2 separate regions of the Homo sapiens genome follow, and region 2 is linked to region 1. Evidence: fine-mapped expression QTL. A gene starts in region 1. The other region holds a variant in brackets. All regions are shown on one strand. Distances are between the middles of the regions. Region 1 holds the start of SYNRG (synergin gamma). Region 2 overlaps SYNRG (synergin gamma).

Region 1 (2,912 bases):
AAGGCCATGATGCTAAAGCATCACAAGAGGGCATCTAACCCAGATTGGGGATGTCATGGAAGGCCGACATCCTGAGTTGAATCCTGCAAATGTAAAAACCAATAGGCAAAGAAGAGGAACAAAAAGGATTCCAGGACAAACTGAGGTCACATCTATGATCCTTGACTTTATTGTGTCTGTTTAAAGTATCTACAGTAACCTGTATCAACTTAGTCAGTGTATTAATACTAAATTTAGCTCCTTCAAAGCAGTTGGAACTATGTGCTACATAAATTTCAGCTTCACACAAGGAAGGGAAGGAGTGAAATTAGTGAACAGGCAGTTACAGCAAAAGAAAAAACATAAAAATTGAATAGCTGGCTCTGGTGAAATGAGCAAGGACTTTAGAGTCAAACTGGCCTGGATTTGAATCCTGATCCTCATTGCTTGTAGCTGTATGATCTGGACAAATGACAGTAACTGTTTCTAACCTTGATTTTCTCATCTGTAAGATGCCAATTGTAACTCCTAAGGATACTGAGGATTTTTTAAAATGCGTGTACAGTTCCTGACCAGTGGTTTGTGCCTAATAACTTATTACAAATTATTACCCAGTAAAAACCTTGAGACAAGAGTGAAAACGTAAAGCTAATTAATCCATTACTTGTTAGCAAGCAAACTACGTGCTTGAGAAAATTACTCAACTTTCATGTTTTACTTCCAGACAGTAGTTTGATTAAAAGAAAAAAAAAAATCACAGCCCAGGCATGTGGCTCACACCCTGGCACTTGGAGGCCGAGGTGGGAGCATAGCTTGAGCCTAGCAGTTTGAAACTAGCCTGGGCAACATAGATCCTATCTCTACAAAAAAAAAAAAAAAAAAAAAAAAAAAAATTGGCCCGGTGTGGTGGTGCATGCCTGTGGTCCCAGCTACTCAGGAGGCTGAGGCGAGAGGATCGCTTGAGCCAGGGAGGCTGAGGCTGCTGTGAGCCATGATCATGCCACTGCACTCCAGCCTGGACAACAGAGCAAGACCCTGTCTCAAAAAAAAAAAAAATCAGTAAAAAATATGCCGAAATAGCTTCAGAGTAATTATGAATTGCCTTCCAAAAACCACTGTTTTGCACTTGCCTGCAAGAATAGGAAAAACAAAAGGACTGTAAGGTGGCAGGATGGCAGAACCAAACAAGAGTAGTACACCTTGGAGTTTTTTCGAAATATGGGTTGGGTTTTTGGGCTCTTGGTTGATTTAAAATAAAATTTAAATGCCTTCAGCGTCTGTGATAGGTGCCAACATGAAGCTACCGAGTTCCAGAGAAAGAGGGGAGAGCTGATCACTCATCAGTGCTGCGAGACTATCAAAGGGCCCTTCAGGACCTATCTGTTCTTTGTGTGTAAAGAGTAACAATAAAAGAACACCAGTGTACCCACCGTATAGTTTAAAAATCAGGACTCAGCCTACTCTTTCCACTAACCGCGATCATGGTTTTCAAACGGAGGACCAACGGCGCTTTGCCACTGGGCCGCCAGCTGGGCCCTGCAGAGGGCCTACCAGACAATGAATCAGCTCCCTTGGAGAGGCGCCCGCGACCGCCCCACCAGCCCGAGAGCTAGAATTGAATCTGGGGGACCCCTGCGGCGCCGGGTCACGTGCCGTGGGCGCGCCACGCCTCCCCGAGGGCCGGGGGAGTCACGTGGGCGCGAGGCCCCGCCCCATCGCCCGGTCCGCGGCGAGGTGGGGCCTGGTGTTTGACCCGGAAGTGGCTGTGTTCAGCTGACAGCTGCTGATAAGGTGGCGGCGGCGAAGGCAGCGGCAGGTCGGGAGCAAGATGGCGCTGCGGCCAGGAGCTGGTTCTGGTGGCGGCGGGGCCGCGGGAGCTGGCGCGGGGTCCGCCGGGGGAGGCGGGTAGGTGTGAAGAGCCGGGCGGGAGCCCGCTGGCCTCCGCGGGGGCGGCGAGGGGCGCTTGGCAGTTATGGCAGTTTTCTCCAGCCCTGATCCTTTTCCTTGGAACTGGGCTGCGGGAGGAGGGTCATCCCCCAGGGACCCAGGCCGAAAGGGGCGTGTGGAGCCCAGGTGCTGGACGCTGGTGTTCCGGGATCAGTTGGGGGCGCCGGCCGCCTGGAATCGAGCGGGGAGCGAGCGCGCGCCCAGTGTGGGAGGGGAGAGAAGATGAGGGTCCTCTTGGGGTGGGGGGGGGCGGGGCAAATCAGGAACCGCGACTCCGCTCCTAGTCCTAGCTGCCTCTGAAGCGACCAGGGTCTTCCCTTTCCTTGGGCTTTCTAGACTTAACCGGATATGTTGGAGGGAGGGCTTTAAAAATCTGTTCACAAAGCTGGAGGACTGTTTCCAAGGGGGGTGTGTGTGTGGACTATTTGTCTCTTCCCCTTTTAGAGTGTCCTGTCCTCTTTATTTCCTTAACCCGCGACAAACAGCAGGAACATCTAAAGACCTCTGAATTAGTAATGGTCTTGAGATAGAGTTCTTGTCTTGTACACTAACTCTTAAGACTTGTCTGTCTTCTTTTTAAAAAGGCATTTAAAAACAAAGAAAGTGCACTGTTAAACAGCAGTTGCGCATTTATTAGAACAAAGCTTCCAGACTCAGCCCTTAAACAAATCTGCCCTCTGCCACATTTCAGCCAAGAACTGCCGTGGTTCTTATACCCAGAATGGTAAGGGAGATGTACGTTTTACAAGCTGACAGATTCGTTATCATTTAAGGAAATATTTTATTCTAGGAAGTTTTCACTCCACTTCTATAATGACCTAGTCTGATTTTGTTTTACTAACCAACACACAACAGCACACACATTTGGAGGTAAAAGTAGCTTTGCATCTTCAGTATCCTAAATTGTCTTTGGAAAACGAAGTGTTAGGTTTTTTTTTTATATGCAGTGTTTCAATTTCGGAGTCGTGAACACTACAAAAGTGTAA
Region 2 (2,912 bases), 71 kb after region 1:
CACAGGTCCTGTGCTCAGAAGTTACATTTATTAGTAATTTAACATAGTTATTAGTGAGTTCAAAAAGATAAACTGCGGCTGGGCATGGTGGCTCATGCCTGTAATCTCAGCACTTTGGAAGGCCAAGTCGGGCAGATCACTCGAGCTCAGGAGTTCAAGACAAGCCTGAGCAACATGGTGAAACCCCACCTCTACCAAAAATACAAAAATTAGCCTCATGTGGTGGTGCGTGCCTGTAGTCCCAGCTGCTCTGGAGGCTGAGGTGGGAGGATTGCTTGCGTCCAGTGCAGTGAGCAGAAATCATGCCACTGCACTTCAGCCTGGGCAACAGAGCAAGACCCTATCTCAAAACAAAAACAAAAACAAAAAAAACATAAACTGCTTGAACTAGAGTGATCGTAATAAAAAGGAAAGTCCTCCAAGCACTTTGAATTGACAGAGTCATCAATAGAAGATTCCAGGTTTGTGTGTTTAACCCAGTTCTTTTTAACAAATTCACAGGAAAATGAGAGATATGCATATGAATGGCAGAGATGCCTGGGGAGTGCCCTGAATGTGAGTATGTCACTTACGCGTTCACACATATGTGAGTGCTCTTTTGTGCCTTTTTGCCTTCTTGGTTCATTTGAATTGACAGAGGCAAACTTCAGGAGAGCCTTACTTGGATGTCCCTGGGCAAAGAGTAACTCTGTGGAAGTCATGCATCTAAGGTGAGGCTTCTTTCACACTTACAATAGCAGACCGGCTCATGTGTCAGTCATCCCCTCATCTGTCATTGTGTTTAAGAAATAACAAAGTGATTTCATTAACTCTGACTAAATCAAAATAATATTTAAGCTAAAGAACCTGTCTTGGCTGGGTGCGGTGGCTCAACACCTATAATCCCAGCACTTTGGGAGGCCAAGGCGGGCGGATCACGAGGTCAGGAGTTTGAGACCAGCCTGACCAACATGGTGAAACCCTGTCTCTACTAAAAATGCAAAAATTAGCCAGGCGTGGTGGCACGTGCCTGTAATCTCAGCTACTCAGGAAACTGAGGCAGGAGAATCACTTGAACCCGGGAGTCAGGGGTTCAGTGAGCCGAGATCTTGCCACTGCACTCCAACCTGTGCTACAGAGCGAGACTCCGTCTCAAAACAAAGCAAAACAAAACAAAAGGAAAAAAACATATTTTCTCTTCCAGAGAAATGGAGGATTGTTTCTTCAAGGATAAAATGAGATTTTTTGACACCTCCTGGCTTTTCGGTTGGGTTTTCTACTAATAGTAAATTGATTTGCAATGACTTTTCTCAGTTATGTAAGGTGATGTGATTTCATTTCTTGTAGGTCATTAAGAAGGCAAATGATACCTTAAATGGAATCAGTAGTAGTTCTGTTTGCACAGAAGTAATTCAGTCAGCTCAAGGCATGGAATATTTATTAGGTATGTTCTTTCATATTTTACTATTGAAAATGATGGCCCTTTGCATTATTTTCAGTTTTCCCTTTAATTATTTTAAGCTAGAT[C/A]TCTCAAGTTACATATGACTTCAGTAAGAAGCATCTGTATTTGTGGGTAAGACACTCAAGCTACAGGCAGTAAACTATTGGACTTAATTAAAAAGTCTCTATGGCTAAGTTTCCTCATCCTTGTTATATACGTAATAGCAAAAATGTAAAATTATATCTGTGTTACTGGTTTATCAAAGAATCTGAACTACCGATGCACTAAAGTAAAATCATCTTGTCTCCCATCAATTCCTTACCATACTCTATATTCTTTCTCTCGACCGCTTAATGACACCACAGAGTCCTTAACCTCCTGGCCATCTGCAGCAATTTGATGTGTCAGTCCAACGGGAAAGTGTAGTCTCTGTCCACTTCGGTGTTCCTCCCTTCCCCAAGCTCAGGCTTGGCCCGTGGCCAGAGCCACACATGCTGGACCCTAATCTTTTTCAAATCTTTACTCAAATGTCAGCTTCTGAGTGAAATCTTTCCTAGCATCCATCTCTCCAAAGAGTATCGTCTCTCCCTACCCCGGTACTTCCCATCCCATTCTCTGCTGGATTTTCTCCTTAGCCCTATTACCTTTAATTTCTTACATATGTTACTTATTATTCTTTTCTTTTCTTTTCTTTTTTAAGACAGGTTCACACTCTGTCACCCAGGTTGGAGTGTAGTGATGTAGTCATGACTCACTGCAGCGTCCACCTCCCAGGCGCAAGCAATCATCCCACCTCAGCCTCCCAAGTAGCTGGAACCACAGGTGTGCACCACCATGCACCCAGCTAATTTTTGTAGTTTTTGTAGAGACAGGTTTCCGCCATGTTGCCCAGGCTGGTCTCGAACTCCTGAGCTCAAGCGACCCACCCACCTTGGCCTCCCGAAGTGCTGGGATCACAGGCGTGAGCCACTGCACCTAGCTACTTGTTGTTTTTACTCTCTGTCTCCCTTCACTAGAATGAACCTCCAAGAAGGCAAGGATTTTGGTCTGTTTTGTTCACTGGTGTGTCCCCAACACCTAATCTAGTGTCTTGCACGTAGTTGGCACTCAAAAATATTTGCTGGATGAGTGGAGAGTGAAGGGATGTAGTCTCTGCCTTACTCCTGCCACCTCACTTGGGGTCTTCTTTTCCTGCTCAAACAGGCACAGTTCTGCATAAGCAGATGTCCACCAGGAAATGGGGCACCTGTCTTTTCTCCTAGTATCCTTGTATCTATGGAAGATTCTCTTAGAAGCCCCCTCACTTGGCTTAGGGTGGGCAGTAATTTCTGCCCCTCTCTTGGGAAAGGAAGAAGAAAAGCCGTAGTGCTGACACAGGGCTGCTGAGGCCCCGCTCTGAAGATCCCCTGGAATTCCTCCAGTGTTCACTTAGAGAGATCGGGGTCATGTCTTTGGTGACTGTTACATTGCAGGGGTTAGGGATGTGTCTGGT

Evidence for each region. PIP is the estimated chance that this variant, and not a neighbour inherited with it, causes the effect.
Region 2: its variant is fine-mapped to the expression of SYNRG in whole blood (TOPMed, PIP above 0.99).

What each region holds. Positions count from the first base shown.
Region 1 is chr17:37,608,251-37,611,162 of GRCh38, reverse strand. It overlaps SYNRG (synergin gamma), which reads left to right and starts at 1,745. Exons shown (of 22, transcript NM_007247.6): 1 at 1,745-1,884. The coding sequence starts at 1,808. DDX52 (DExD-box helicase 52) reads left to right here. Exons shown (of 15, transcript NM_007010.5): 15 at 1-1,424.
Region 2 is chr17:37,536,835-37,539,746 of GRCh38, reverse strand. SYNRG (synergin gamma) reads left to right here. Exons shown (of 22, transcript NM_007247.6): 17 at 502-555; 18 at 1,327-1,423. Among named protein-coding and RNA genes, the nearest start is that of DUSP14, 48 kb to the right of the region's middle. The variant C/A (reference allele first, on the strand shown) is at 1,507.